Regions from separate parts of the Homo sapiens genome. Here region 2 is linked to region 1. Evidence: fine-mapped expression QTL. A gene starts in region 1. The other region holds a variant in brackets. All regions are shown on one strand. Distances are between the middles of the regions.

Evidence for each region. PIP is the estimated chance that this variant, and not a neighbour inherited with it, causes the effect.
Region 2: its variant is fine-mapped to the expression of HSD17B12 in prefrontal cortex (BrainSeq, PIP 0.95).

The regions. Positions count from the first base shown.
Region 1 is chr11:43,677,546-43,685,884 of GRCh38, reverse strand. It overlaps HSD17B12 (hydroxysteroid 17-beta dehydrogenase 12), which reads right to left and starts at 5,147. Exons shown (of 11, transcript NM_016142.3): 1 at 4,898-5,147. The coding sequence starts at 5,057. RefSeq lists enhancers at 4,393-4,452, 4,603-4,652, 4,727-5,292, 5,503-5,552.
Region 2 is chr11:43,720,010-43,728,348 of GRCh38, reverse strand. The region is part of intron 1 of HSD17B12 (hydroxysteroid 17-beta dehydrogenase 12); the gene reads right to left. Among named protein-coding and RNA genes, the nearest start is that of HSD17B12, 43 kb to the right of the region's middle. The variant T/C (reference allele first, on the strand shown) is at 3,590.

The DNA.
Region 1 (8,339 bases):
TTGAAACTGTGCCTTTTTTTGGTCTGAGATTGTTCTTAAAAATAAAACAAAAATTTAAATTTTAAAAAGTGAAAGTGTGTCTTCAATCAAAAAGCTTTTAATAAAGTTTGTAGGTATAAAGAAATCTACTCCCGAGTACTCATCCAGTCTGTAGGCCCATCACCAACATACAGTGTACGAATGTTGCAGAACGGATGACTTGGTTTCAAATCCTGACTCTGCAATTTAATAGCTATGAAACCATAGATAATGAAAGCAATTTACTAAACCCTCTGATTCTTCCTCTGTCCACTGGGGACAACGGAGCACAGCTCAAAGAGGTTAAAAATAATCTCAAGTTCCTGGCACATTTCAAGCACCCATTCAATAAATGATAGTTATTAATATTTCTTCTGGGTTGTCAATTTAAATAACTAACATTTCATATATAATTCTTCAAATCATGTGATATCACAAACTCTTGTTAAAGAAAGACACCTACTATTAATAAGCTCTAGTTACACAAGTATTCTTCAGTCATTTGAGGTTAACCCTGTGCAGTTAACCAATGTGAAAACAGAAATTGTGATTATACCTGTGATTTTGAGAATCCTTTGATGCATGTTTTCATGAATGGTTTTTCCAGAGGAGAACCACACCATTCCATGCCATTTTTAAGTCCTCACTATCTACTGAATTAGGAGAACCTTGGAATACTGCAAAGCCAAACGAGTTCCATCAGCAACCAGAAGCTACATCTTAGAGATTTGCTAATGTAAACATCCAGAGGGTAGAACAAAGGGTTGAAGACTTTTTTTGTGAAATCTGACCTCACTCCACAAAACAGAATATTATTCAGCAATACAAACAAAATGAAGTACAGATTTCATAGATGAAACTTGAAAACATTATGCAAAAATCAAAGAGCCACTAACAAAAAAGAACACCTATTGTATGATTCCATTTATATGAAATATCCAGAACAGGCAAACCTACGTAGACAGAAAGTAGATTGGTAGTTGACTAGGGCTGGAGCGGGTGGGGGTCAGGGAGTGAAGGGCCTAATGGGTACAGCATTTCTTTTAAGGAAGATGAAAATGTTCTGAAATTAGATTTGATGATGGTTGCACAACCCTGTGAACATAAGTAAAAACCTTGAATTGTACACTTTAAATGGGCAAATTGTATGGTATATTAATTATATCCCACTAAAGTTGTTTTAAAAAATCTAACTCACTAACTGATTAGTGGATCATTTATTCTTCACTGCGTGTAACAATATCCTCTTCATTAAAAACTAAAAATAAGTGCTCAGAGTGCTGTCTTATGTTTAAAGTTATAAAATATCTTGACATTGGAAGTCTACTTACCTTGCCTTTGCATCTATCATCTCCACTTTATTTCAATAGCAATCATTTTAGATGAACTCCAGCAATGGAAACTACTCAAATACTTGCAAAATGTATTTATGGTCAAACCACATTCTACAGATCACATTTTTTATTGCTCTATAGCAGTGACTGTTCTTTCCTTTATTTAATACAAACTGACCACCTTTGTTATCAATCTTTTTTTGATTACTTGCTACACTGACCTTCAAACACCTGAAACTCCACATTCACAGGATCTCCTTTTGTTCTCCTAAGAAATACAGGAAGTATTCGGGTAACAATGACAAAGAAGTCTTACTTACTAAATTGGCTAAACCCACCTTCTAGGGGTATAGGGAACACAGGGGATTCACCTGAGTGGGAATGTTACTGGTGAGAACTAGGAGAAAGAGATGGCCCAGCTCTTGACCAGGAGATGGAGATAAATTAGAGTGTGGGCCAGCCAAGTAATGGACAGTCTTGAAAGCCTAACAACACTAAGGAAACTGTTATCTAGAATATTTTACTGATTGTGAAGCATACCTGTATTTCAAGTTTTTCAAAGTTTTTGTTCTTAAATTTAGAAGAGCCAATTTGTGAGAAAAGACAAAAAGTGAGAATCCACGCTTTCTGCCCCTCAGATCCTAAAATCTGAGGCAGACAGATTAAACATACTCACATGAAGATACTCACATGAAGAGACTAAGAATAACAAGAATAAAAATATAGTATCAATTCAACATATACTAATAAAATACTTAAAATATATAATTGGTTTTAAAGAGGAAAATATTAAATATTAGTACTAGAAAGTAGATTCAAAGGCTGCATAAGAACAGAGACTCTTGAGATTAAGATAGTAATTTCGTAGGGAAAAAACTTACTAGTACTATTTACATACAACAATTCTAAAATCATAACTTTGGTGGAACAATATTTTTAATCACAACTCTAATTATTCAAGTGTCATCTCTGCTAGTTTGTTTTTCAAATTATTTCAGTTCACCCCTCCAACTCATGTGAAGAACCTGTTTAAGATGAGCTGCTCTTAATTTTGTTTTTGAAGAGTCCCAGAATTTGAAGATAAAGGGAGTATTTTCTTTTAAGATCACTTCTTCTGCTTAAGCATTTAAAAAAAAAAAATCCAAAACCCAGGGTAAATTGAACCTGTCAGCATTTCACTTCAATTATGATACTATGATCCTCTGCTGTTCCAGTGTTCCAGTTCAAATTTCATATCTAAATCTTACACAAATACTTCCCTTAATTTATCAATTATCCTTCCTCTGGGGCCAAATCTTTTCAACACAAATGTTACTTATGGTGTTACATCACTTGCCTTTTACTGTACACTCATATGTAGATGACTTGGACTTATCATTTGAATAATCAACCAATATGGTCAATTTTAAAGAGAAAAAAAAAAAAAAACAAAAAAAAACACATCCAGGCATGGTGGCTCACACATGTAATCCCAGCACTTTGGGAGGCTGAAGCAGGAGGATTGCTTGATCTCAGGTCTTCCAGACCAGCCTCTGAAACAGAGTGAGGCCTTGTCTCTACAAAAAACAAAAAAAATGAGCTGGTGTGGTGATGCACACCTGTAGTCCCAGCTACTCAGGAGGCTCACATGGGAGGATCACTTGAACCCAAGAGTTCGAGGCTGCAGTTGGCTATGATCACACCACCACACCACTGCCCTCCAGCCTGGGTGACAAAGTGAGACCCTGTCTCAAAAAAAAAAAGAAAAGAAAAGAAAACAACAAGTTATTAACATTAGTCTTTGCTTACCAATTACAAATTTTATCTTGATACAATTCCCTAATTTTTATCTTGTATAAAAATCTTGTAGTCTTTTGTAGTCAAAAGTCTTCAAACAGGTTTTCCAAAACTAACAATGAAGAATGTGGGCAAGTCAATTGGGAAATCATAATCTTAATTATAACCAAGTTGAATACTTCACTTTCTGTTTTTTTTTTTTTTTTTTTTTTGAGATGAGTCTCGCTCTGTCACCCAGGCTGGATGGAGTGCAGTGGCATGATCTCGGCTCACTGCAAACTCCGCCTCCTGGGTTCAAGCGATTCTCTTGCCTCAGCCTCTGGGACTACAGGGGCGCGCCACCACGCCCAGCTAATTTTTGTATTTTTAGTACAGACGGGGTTTCACCGTGTTGGTCAGGCTGGTCTCAAACTCCTGACCTTGTGATCCACTCGCCTCGGCCTCCCAAAATGCTGGGATTACAGGCGTGAGCCATCACACCCAGCTGAACATTTCACTTCCTTTTTCAGAGAAACAGGTGACTGTGAAACAGAATTATAATGTTGCTCCACATCGTCCAAAGATTTCACATACATATCCACTGCTAAGATGTTTTCTCTTAATGTTAACATAAACCCAAAAGGTTAACATATGTCTTTCCTACTAGGTTGTTTAAATGTTTCTAAATAAACAAAGAACATGGAGTAACATTATTAGTGTATCTTACCTGAGCCCAGTCTGCAGGCAATGCCTAACCACCCCAAAATTCAATAAAATGCTTAGGAAGTGCACATTCGATTATAAAACATCAAAATAAATAATCATCTCAGGGTAGGACCACAAGCATATCATAAGTAATCACTCGGTTTAAAGGGAAAAAAGGCCAAGAGACGAAAAATAAAGCAAAGAAGGAAACAAAATAGGTTGAAAAAGAAAAAAAAAAGGGGGGGGGGAGCAAAACTTCCCTGCAGATAATTTTCCCTATTTCCTCAACCTGACCTTCGTCCTCCATTTTAAAAATCCTCCGACTACAAGTTCCATGTGTTTGGTTCACTCTTTACGGGTATACTTTTTCCTACAAACGTCCTTGTGAAAAAAAAAAAAAAATCTGATTTTAACATGATGAGTTATCATTTTACAGAAGCAATAGTTCTTGCTACTCGTTAGGACTCCAGAACAGTTTAGCGAGAATTCCTTTTAAAGGGGCTTTGTAATTGTATGAAATAGGCCAAATCCAGATACGATTACTATCTTAATCGTAACTGGGGAGGTACGATTCCGCAGTGCAAAAAGCCTTCTGAAATTGTGTCCCTACACCCCTTTCCATCCTCTGCCCAAACATGTTAACAGAATGCTCTGCATCCTTAGCACAGGGCCAATATTCAAACCGAGCGAAAAACTTTATTTTAAAAACACTTACAAGGGGCGAACCAAGGAGGACAGCGTGTGACTGAGGAGGCAGCAGGGCGACTGACTGGCTCCATGAACACGGAATGGCTTAAAGGGCACAAGCCCCAGAGACTTAAGGCAGTTTTCTCCTACACCCTAAGCTGAGCTTAGATTCCCAGGATTGAGCGAGCAGTGTATTTCGTACCTTAAAACTCTGCAAGTAGTCTAAGCAAGCAGAAGACAGCCAAGGGAGCCAGGAGGGGCCCGCGGGGCACAGGAGCCTGAGAAAGAGGAGAGCTGGGGAGGGGAAGGCCAGGAGCAGACCCCAGAACTAGTCATCACGGCCCAGGCCTGGTCCGGGCCGCCGCGGGAGCGAGGACGCGGCGCTGCATCCGACTCACCTGCCCATTCTCCGAGCCCCGGGCCGACCCCCGCCTCATTCCCCACTCCCCAGACCCGGAGGGCCGTGAAGAGCGAGTACGAAATACGCAGGGCTAGGTAGGCCACGGTGCCCGCGCCGACCCAGTACAGGAAGCCGGCGGCGGGGAGAGCGCTCTCCATGGCTTTCCACTAGGCCTCACTACCTTCGTGAATGAAAAGAGCGAGTGAATGAATCCAGGAGGAGGCGCCGGCCGTGACGGTGAGGATGACACTAATAGGCGCTGCTCCGACACCACTTTGGGCCTAAACCCCGCCCGCGGGGCCATATCCGTGTCGCTATTGGTGACCCGTCTTTCCCTCTGCGCGTAGTGCGTCAGCCATTAGCTGACTCCAGTTCCACTGCCCCTCCCACACTCCTCCCATCACCGCGTCCCCCGGGGTTCCGCCAGTGAGCGCCCTGTCTCACCCCACCGAGGCGCCCCGGTCTCTCATTGGCTGCAGCCGTACTCGCGACTGCGGAAGACTGCGCTCGGATTGGCCGGTCAGACCCAGGCTGGTTTGAGCTCAGGTTCGAAGAGGAAATGGGATCAGAGAAGCCGCTAGTGAATGGAAAGATTATAGTAAGAAGTGGGCGTAGGCAGGGCGCGGTGGCTAACACCTGTAATCCCAGCACTTTGGGAGGCCGAGGCGGGCGAATCGCTTGAGCTTAGGAGTCCGAGACCAGCCTGGCCAACATCCGAACCCCGTCTCTACTAAAAATACAAAAATTAGCCGGGCGTGGTGGCGTGCGCCTGTAATCTCAGCTACTCGGGAGGCTGAGGCAGGAGAATCACGAACCCGGGAGGCAGAGGTTGCAGTGAGCCGAGATCGCGCCACTGCATTCCAGCCTGAGCGACGGAGTGAGACTCCATCCCAAAACAAAAACAAAAAAAAAAAGAAAAGAAATAGGTGTGGAGCCACAGTTTTATTTTCAACTCTTTATTAAATAAATATATATTTTACATATATGATATAATTATATAATAAATATATCATTGTTAAGCGTGCTGTCATTGTTGCCATAAACTTTTCCAGATAAAGGCTTGCAGTCTTCTGTGTCTGTGCCTTCCTCGCTGCAGGCATTCGCCCGGGTTACACTCACTCATAGAGAGCCCTTAAATGCCAGACCTCCCTCCCAGCTGAGCACTAAACATCACTTAGTTCCCAACGATTTGGGGTTCAAGGCAAATAACCTGATGGAGTCTAATAACTGTTAGACGATGGCATCAGAGCTGTATGGTGAATGAAAAATATAGGAACACAGCTTGCTGAACAATTAGTTTTGGAAGGAGACTATATCTTTTAATTTGTCTTCAAAGGGGGATAGAAAATTTTACTTTCTTTTTTAAATTTCCCTTTTTTGGTTGGGGAGTGGGGGAGTGGTATTTCCAGGGGGCACAGAAGTGTGAAGTCCAGATAGAGGCATGGGAACTACGTTAGCAAAGTTGCAGAGGAGAAAGATCACAAGGTAAGTTTAAAAAATTGTGTAAAACTTAAGGAGATTTTGGGCTGAGACGATGGGGTTTTCTAAATATACAATTATGTCATCTGCAAACAGGGACAATTTGACTGCCTCTTTTCCTAACTGAATACTCTTTATTTCTTTCTCCTGCCTGATTGCCCTGGCCAGAACTTCCAACACTATGTTGAATAGGAGTGGTGAGAGAGGGCATCCCTGTCTTGTAACTCAATGTGCAAAAATCACAGGCATTCTTATACACCAATAACAGACAAACAGAGAGCCAAATCATGACTGAACTCCCCTTCACAATTGCTTCAAAGAAAATAAAATACCTAGGAATCCAACTTACAAGGGATGTGAAGGACCTCTTCAAGGAGAACTACAAACCACTGCTCAACGAAATAAAAGAGGACACAAACAAATGGAAGAACGTTCCATGCTCATGGATAGGAAGAATCAATATCGTGAAAATGGCCATACTGCCCAAGGTAATGTATAGATTCAATGCCATCCCCATCAAGCTACCAATGACTTTCTTCACAGAATTGGAAACAACTACTTTAAAGTTCATATGGAACCAAAAAAGAGCCCGCATTGCCAAGTCAATCCTAAGCCAAAAGAACAAAGCTGGAGGCATCACACTACCTGACTTCAAACTATACTACAAGGCTACAGTAATCAAAACAGCATGGTACTGGCACCAAAACAGAGATATAAACCAATGGAACAGAACAGAGCCCTCAGAAATAACACCACACATCTACAACTATCTGATCTTTGATGAACCTGGCAAAAACAAGAAATGGGGAAAGGATTTCCTATTTAATAAATGGTGCTGGGAAAACTGGCTAGCCATATGTAGGAAGCTGAAACTGGATCCCTTCCTTACACCTTATACAAAAATTAATTCAAGATGGATTAAAGACTTACATGTTAGACCTAAAACTATAAAAAACCCTAGAAGAAAACCTAGGCAATACCATTCAGGACATAGGCATGGGCAAGGACTTCATGTCTAAAGCACCAAAAGCAATGGCAACAAAAGCCAAAATTGACAAATGGGATCTAATTAAACTAAAGAGCTTCTGCACAGCAAAAGAAACTACCATCAGAGTGAACAGGCAACCTACAGAATGGGAGAAAATTTTTGCAATCTACTCATCTTACAAAGGGCTAATATCCAGAATCTACAAAGAACTCAAACAAATTTACAAGAAAAAAACAAACAACCCCATCAACAAGTGGGCAAAAGATATGAACAGATACTTCTCAAAAGAAGACATTTATGCAGGCAACAGACACATGAAAAAATGCTCATCATCACTGGCCATCAGAGAAACGCAAATCAAAACCACAATGAGATACCATCTCATACCAGTTAGAATGGCAATCATTAAAAAGTCAGGCAACAACAGGTTCTGGAGAGGATGTGGAGAAATAAGAACACTTTTACACTGTTGGTGGGACTGTAAACTAGTTCAACCATTGTGAAAGACAGTGTGGTGATTCCTCAAGGATCTAGAACCAGAAATACCATTTGACCCAACCTTCCCATTACTGGGTATATACCCAAAGGATTATAAATCATGCTGCTATAAAGACACATGCACGCGTATGTTTATTGCAGCACTATTCACATTTGGAACCAACCCGAATGTCCAACAATGATAGACTGGATTAACAAAAAGTGGCACATATACACCATGGAATACTATACAGCCATATAAAAGGATGAGTTCATGTCCTTTGTAGGGACATGGATGAAGCTGGAAACCATCATTCTCAGCAAACTATCGCAAGGACAAAAACCCAACACCACATGTTCTCACTCATAGGTGGGAATTGAACAATGAGAACACTTGGACACAGGAAAGGGAACATCACACACTGGGGCCTGTCATGGGGTGGTGGGGGGGTGGGGAGGAATAGCATTAGGAGATAAACCTAATGTAAATGACGAG
Region 2 (8,339 bases), 42 kb before region 1:
TATGCCTATAATCCCAGCACTTTGGGAGGCCAAGGTGGGCAGATCACCTGAGGTCAGGAGTTCATGACCAGCCCGGCCAACATGGTGAAACCCCATCTCTACTAAAAATACAAAAATTAGCTGGGCGTGGTTGCAGGCACCTGTAATCCCAGCTACTTGGGAGGGTGAGGCAGGAGAATCACTTGAACCCAGGAAGCGGAGGTTGCAGTGAGTGGAGATTGTGCCACTGCACTCCAGCCTGAGTGACAGAGCAAGATTCGGTCTCAAAAAACAAAAAAACAAAAAACAAACAAAAAAAAAACAGAATCACACTATGCAAGCCCCCATGTGGTTACTGCCACAATTGAGATGTCTGCTTAATTCAGTTTGTATTTAAAGCCTCAGACAGAAAAACACATAAACTCAAGTTTTCCAGAAATGAAACAAACAAAAAAGCACCAAACCTACTCTACCATCTCTGGAGAAAGGGGAGTCCACTGCCCACTATACATTACTGCCATAGTTCATCTCTCCCAACCTGAGATCAAGAAGCACACTGGCAAAGTGGAGGAAAAAAGGTGTGATTAAAAACAAAAATGGATTAAAGGGTAGAAAGAGGGTGAATTGTTGTGTTTTTTTCCTACTGTTTTACCATAACACCAAATACTTGGAGAAGGAGTTGTAAAACTCAGCATTAAGAGATGGTGGTTTGTACTATGATGGGAATTTATATCAACAAAATGCCTTATAAGCCAGGTAGGGTGGTGTGTGCCTGTAATCCCAGCTACTCAGGAGGCTGAGGCAGGAAAATCAGTTGAGACCAGGAATTCAAGACCAGCCTGGGCAATATAGCAAGACTCCCTATCGAAAAAAAAAAAAGCCTTATATTCATGAGTTATTTCTCTAGCATGATCAAGATTCAAACAGAATCAAAGTTCACACAAAGTTCCCTCTAAACTGGGACTCCCCTGAAACCTTCTAAACTCAAGATTTTATTTAAATAGAACACAGCCACCTTCGGTTAGTTAGCTGATCCCAATAACGTAAGAGTAGCTTGGGAAACACCTACTGAAAATCACAAGGACTGCTGTAATATTTTACATTGAACATTTTCTGATGGAATCTACCATTTCTTCCGACAAGGGCTACTCAGTCTAACAGCACCAGCAAGACCACATTCAGCTTCAGGGGGCCTCTTGGCCTGTGATGCCTCAGTTCTTTCTACCATATGCTATCTGAGTATACAGTTGTCTTGTTCACTGAAAATGAGCATGGCATTGTACCATGACTGAATCCTTAATATAAAGTATATTTAAGTAAGTTCACCCTTTATGTAATAACTGTGGTCTCACATTTATACTACATAAATAAAATCTATTCTTTGAATTATTATGTAAAGCAAACTTTCCCAATTAATGGAAGCCTTAAAAATTTTTTTAGAATGCAAGTACTCTCCATGGCCCCCCACCTCCCAACTTTAACTATTTTTATACATTTATATTTTCTTACATCAGGTTTTAACAGTGGACCATACTTGTATTTTGACAAGGCTGGCAGCTTCTAATTAGACATAGAATGTGTACATGAATACAGACAGAAATTTTAACAGGCAGCACATATCATAATATTTGTTCTATAAGAACTATTTAGACACAACCTAAATATGCTTGAGAATTTGGTCCATTTGAAAGCTCATGTTGAAATTGGAAAATTCTTCTTTCATTTAAGAGATAACCAAGTGAAGAAACAAACAACAAAAGACACTCTCCCTATGAGAAAAGGATTCTAATGGTCCCTGCTGGGTAAGGTATATGTGTGATGCTTAGCATTGGAAAGCCTGTCTCTGAAATATGATAAAGCTCTGGACCTAATCTCATCTAATGGTAAATTTCTGCCAGAGTTGTGGAAATTGTGGGTAACTGTTTAGATGAGCCATCTCAAGCCCTACTAACGCCCTCAATTTCTCCTTTCTTCCTTTGCTCGGGCTTTAGGGGTTAAACCTACTTATATTCCCTGAACATTTCCTCACCCACTCTATCCCCTGGATTATGGAATGAGAGGCTATCTCTCCAGTTATCTCTTTTCTTATCGCCCTTAGAGACACTAAGGGCAAATAAACCTGGGCCAAGTTACCAAACTACCTAACTTTACTTATCTGTAAAATGGGAATACTATTAGTACTTAACACAGAGATTAGGATATGAATACCAAATCCTTAGACTAGTGTGATACCTAATTAGCATTACGTAAGTGTCAGCCATATGCTTTTATTATCATTAGTATTAAGTAGAACGTTTGATTTGTAAGCACTACATATTACTATCACTATTATTATTTGATTGTTAACTGTTACATAAAGTGAAAATAACAACATGAAATCTTTTACTTTAGAAATCTGAGAAAAATCTTGCGTTCATGGCTCCTGATTACTTGATGATTAACAAAGCACTGTTGCCAAAACTTCCATTTTGAGATGGCTCAAAATGGCTCCTCCATTTTTCTCATATCTGTTCCTCTGTTGTGTCTTTCTCTCACCTAGCCTCATTTATTCAAACTCTGTTGTTCCCTTATGGCCTAACATAAATGGGCCCTCCTTCACAAAGCTTTCTATGAAGCCCACCTTCTAACATAGTAATAACTTACCATTTTTATATTACATTGTTTTGTTTATTTTTGTCTCTCTCCCCAATTAGAATGTAAGCTTCATGAGGACAGGAATAACTGCATTTTGTTAATGGATGAATCCTTGTGCCTAGAATAGTAGCTGGCATATAGATTATTGATAAAAATTGTTGAATAATTAATATTCAATCTGGCCTATGTCAGACTTGTTAGATTAATAAATCCTTATCTGTTTAAGCCACCATAGTTGTGTATTCTGTTACTTACAGCTGAAGACATTCCTGATGTTAAAGCATTACAGAATATGCATAGAATATTTGTTGTTATCCCCATCATTGTTATTACTGTTATTATGAATTAACCAGCATTTATTATGTGCTTACTATGTGCTAGGCATGATGTTCAGTATTTTTAGCACATTGCTAAACAAGCATCATCTTTTTTAACCTTTGCAATAATTTCTGAAGTACATACCAATTTTAGAGATGAAGAAACTGAGGCTCAGAAAAGCTGAACAGTTTGCTCAAGGTAACAAAACTAGGAAATGACTGGCACAAACTATAAATGCAAATTTCTGGCTCCAGTGCCTATACTCTTACCTAGTATGCTGTACTGCCATGTCTGTGAAATATACATAGAAGTATTTTCCTCTTAAAATAACTATAAGCTCCACAAGTCAGAAATCCTGTTCTCCAAGCCATGGTAGCCACTAAAGCAATTAATATATTGGGCCCTCAAGTAGCTACTCAGTAAATATTTGTTACAGAGATAAGTGAATACCAATCCTGCTCTGGGAATCTGAGTTTTTATAAAAATGAGACATGAATATACACTGTTAAAAAATTACTATATTCTCAAGTATGTGCCCCTAGTTTCTCTTGATTGCAGGAATTTTTCCTTCTGTTTTGGTGATATTTGTCACTCAGGCATCTGGAATCAAAACATCATCTCTGTTACGGTCTGAATGTTTGTGTTCCCCCAAAATTCA[T/C]AGTCGAAACCCTAACCCACAAGGTGATGGTACTAGCAGGGGGCATTTGTGGATGGTTGGATCACGAGGACAGAGCCCTCATGAATGGGATCAGTCCTCTTTTGGAGGTCTGAGAGAGCTCATTTGCCCCCTCTGCCATGAGAGGACACAGTGAGAAAGTACCATCTGTGAACCAGGAAACAGTCCCTCACCATATACCAAATCTTCCAGGACCTTGATCTTGGACTTCACAGTCTTCAAAACTGTGAGAAATAAATTTCTGTTGTTCGTAAGCCACTTGGTTTATGGTATTTTGTTTTAGCAGCCCAAACAGGTTAAAACAGTCTCCTAACAAATTAAATAATTGGTGCTCTATGTATTTAAAGATAATGATGGATTTATTTTCAATACATGGCTTTCTGCCACATATGGTAACCCCTAGGCCCTTAGGCAGCTATTTTTTTTATGCAAAATATTTTATGCCAGTCCCTTGTTGGGTAAGACAAGTAAATAAACGAAAACACACACACACACACACACACACACACACACACACACACAGAGCATACACATAAATATATAAAAACATATATGGAGAAGGCAGTCAAAAACTGACTGGACCCATGAAGAGAATCCCCAATGCATGCAATTCTCTTTTCCTTGCCTTCAGCTTAGTGATCTATAACAGCTTCTCATATCAGACAATAAGTAGAGATGTGTAAGCAGATGCAGATAGATGAATGAACTGGGTGATCTGAAAATCTGTTAGATCTTAGAATTGAAGCATCTAATACATGAATTGAAATTAAAAAAAAAAATTCTCCTCCTCCAAACAGTTGTATGAACAAATCAAAAGGAAAAGAAGAGTTGGAGGGAAAATGAGACAAAGAACAAAATCTGGTCTATGTGACACATTTATGAAACTGATGGCCTGTCAGCAAGACACTGATGAATATTTTTGCAGGATAAAAATGGCAACGCAGGTCTAAAAATAAACCACTGCGCTGCAGACCTGTCTGGTTCAGCTACACCACTGGAATATAAACATCCTCACTAGTACATTTTGACTCAAGGTTTCACAAAGAAGGAAAAACTGAACGTTTTGTTAGTAAGACAAGATATTTTACATGGTTATAAATCAGTTATGTTCTCTATATAATATACATTGAATTTAAGTGTAATGATTTTCATTTTCTAAAAAAGGTAAAATAAATGCTAATGGCAATATGCCACTAACTAACCTTTTACAAAAGACTATTTCCTCCCAACCCAATTATAATAAAATTAGAGTGGTATTATCATTATCTCATGATAATATGATAATATCCTAAAATAGGAATTTAAAAATAAAATTATAAATTATTTCTAAGCTGAATTGAATGACAGATCTAGTCAAAATGCTATCTCCAAATGGCTCTTGAAAAGGGGTGAAAACGCTATTATCTCATTTTGCATCCAAATTTACAATAAAAGCTACTATCTAAAATGCAAAAGTGAATTTACTATCCTTTACAAGTAGCACTTTAATTCATCAAATCCATTCACCTTATTCAATCTTGCCTTATGTTACGATTCTGGTCTTAGCTAAATAGTGATTTCAATTCTAAGAGTTGCAAACCTCTGGAAGGTTCTCCTAGAACATTCTGATTACTAACATGCCACCTTTTTTTAATAGTAAAAATGAATTAATTCTCCATACCAATAAAATGTGAATAATAAATTACACTTGATCCTTTATGACCACACTGAATTGGAATAAATAGAAAATTTTAAATGACCATTCTGCTTCCACCTGTGGCCACTAGTCTATTCACGGCACAGCAACCAGGGGCATCTTTGCAAAAAGTAAATGACATCACATCACTACCCCTGTTCAATTCCTTCAGTGACTTCCCATTACTCAAAATAGCACACCACCATGGCAGGCGAATTCTTAATTTTTTTTTTCTTGTTGCCCAGGCTGGAGTGCAATGGTGTGGTCTCGGCTCACTGCAACCTCTGCCTCCCGGGTTCAAGCAATTCTCCTGCCTCAGCCTCCCAAGTAGCTGGGATTACAGGCACCTGACACCATTCCCAGCTAGTACTTTTGTATTTTTAGTAGAGATGGGGTTTCACCATGTTGGCCAGGCTGGTCTCTAACTCCTGGCCTCAAGTGATCCACCCATCTCGGCCTCCCAAAGTGCTGGGATTACAGGTGTGAGCCACCACACCTGGCCAATTCTTAAATTTTTTGTAGAGACAAGAGCTCACTATGTTGGCCAGGCTGGTCTCGAATCCCTGGCCTAAAGCAATCCTTCCGCTTCAGCCTCCCAATGTGCTGGGATTACAGGTGTGAGTGACTAGTCTCCTTGCCTAATTCTTGACAGCAGATAGCTACACATTAAAATATAAATACATCCTCCAATATACATCTGTATACTTCCTCCATTGCAGCTGGTATGCCATCCAAGTAATGGCAAAGTCTTCTAATGAAGAGGAAAAGAAGAAAAAAACACATATAAAGAGCTGTAAGATAAAAACAATTTCACTTTAGGAGTTTTCATTTTCAAACTTATTTTTGCAGTAGGGTCACAAAGTTAATAATAGTCAAGAGAAAACTCTCAATTCCCACTTCGAGCTTGCTCCTCTGTCAGAACTCCCCATGGGACCACCCATTTATTCAGTTGCTCAAGCCAAAAGCCTCAAAGTTGGCTTTAATTCCTCCCATTCCCATATCCCATATTCAATAATCCATAAGACCTGTCTAATACATACCACGTATGACCACTTCTCACTCCTAAAAGTACCATGCCCTGGTTCAAGGCCCCATCATTTATACCTCCCCTAGATGACTGCAAGCCTCCTTTACAACATCCTACTTCCACCCTTTGCCACTAGTCTATTTACCACACAGCAGCTACAGACATCTTTGCAAAAAGTAAATGACATCACAACCTTAGCCCTGTTCAATTCCTTCAATGACTTCCCATTACTCAGAATAAGAGCTCAAGTTTTTTTATGTCCTACAGGATATTTCATGACCTCGTTCATGCCCCTCTTCTACTACCATTTTCTCCTCTTATACTCTCGGCTTTGCCTTTCCTCAAACACCCCAAGCCCAGGCCCACCCATGGGTCATTTCACTTGCTTTTTCCTCTGCCTGGAACATTCTTTTTCTTTTTTGAGATGGAGTCTCGCTCTGTCACCCAGGCTGGAGTGCAGTGGTGCGATCTTAGCTCACTGCAACCTCTGCCTCCCAGGTTCAAGCGATTCTCCTGGCTTAGCCTCCCGAGTAGCTGGGACTACAGGCACGTGCCACCATGCCCAGCCAATGTTTTTGTATTTTTAGTAGAGATGGGGTTTCACCATGTTAGCCAGGATGGTCTCGATCTCCTGACCTGGTGATCTGCCCACCTCAGCCTCCAAACGTGCTGAGATTACAGGCATCAGCCACGAGGCTCAGCCTGCCTGGAACACTCTTACCCCATGTTTGGCTCCTTCTCACACTAAGGCCACTCAACGTCATGTCTTCAGAGAGGGCTTCCTGACCACCCTATCTAAAATATCCCCACCCCAACTACCTATTTACTAGTTACTTTCTATCCCAGATTCTTGCTTTATTCCACTTCCATGTGCAATTACATTATTTATCTAGTATTATTGTCCATCTTCCCATACTTGAATGTAAGCTCTATGACTGTCTTGCTCATCACCATATTCCCTTAAAAAAAACTAACATATAAATTAGTAATCTGCAGCAGCAAAAACTGCAAAATCAAATACCTATAGGAGCCAAGAGGTCATGAAAGGGAGTAAATCAGGCAATTTCCAGCTAATATGGAAATGAAGGCCCAACACAAAAACAGCTTACTATTTTTCAAGAGAGACCTGATATATAACCTTCTAGATAAAATCTCCCAATTGTTTGATGATAAATTATGTTGGTTTTTTTTCATTAAAACTCTATCCAAGCCAAATATACCATATCTGTGAGCCAGATACATACACAGGCTACCACTTGTTAACTTCTCACCTATAGTAAATCTTCCAAGTTTAAACTTACTAGGTGCAATAGATTATTCTATAGATGACTATAAGTCATCCCATTCCACATGCTCTTTTGCAATGTGAATTTGCCATTCCTCCCATCAAGAGATGGAATCTATTTTCCCTTCCTTGGATATGCGACTTGCTTTGATTGACTTGCTTAAGGGAAGTGCCAAACAGCCTAAAATATGCAGCATTGGTTTTGGGACCTGATGGCAGGCAGAGGCTGAAAAAGTGGAAAGTCAGTTGTTAGCAAAGGCCAGAAGAACCATGAGAAAATTGCTATTAGATGCAGGAGAGAGAGTGCCTCATGTTACACAGTGGTGGAATGTTTGGCAAGACTGTTGTCTGCAATAATATTTACCTAATTTAACAATTACATAAGATAGAATATTTACCTAATTAACTTATTGACTGGCTAAAGATATTTCCAGGTAGAACACTGAAAGTAGTACCAACTGGCTTCTTTCAGCTGCATATGATAAAGTATGGAGAAGAGAGAAATAAACTAAAGAAGGACCTGTTTAATTTTTAAGCAGAATTTAGAGGAAGTAAAGAGGGCCCAAAACAGTCTCTACAACTGGCGAAAGATCTGAAATTTAAAAATGGTCTCTGGGGAGATATCAAATCAGAGGTTTGTCCATAAGATCTTTTGTTGAGACCTTGAAAATATAGACCCTTCTCATCTATACAAAGGGACTTCGAAGAATCTTAATGACCTTTTCTTCAATAGGCAGACCCAAAG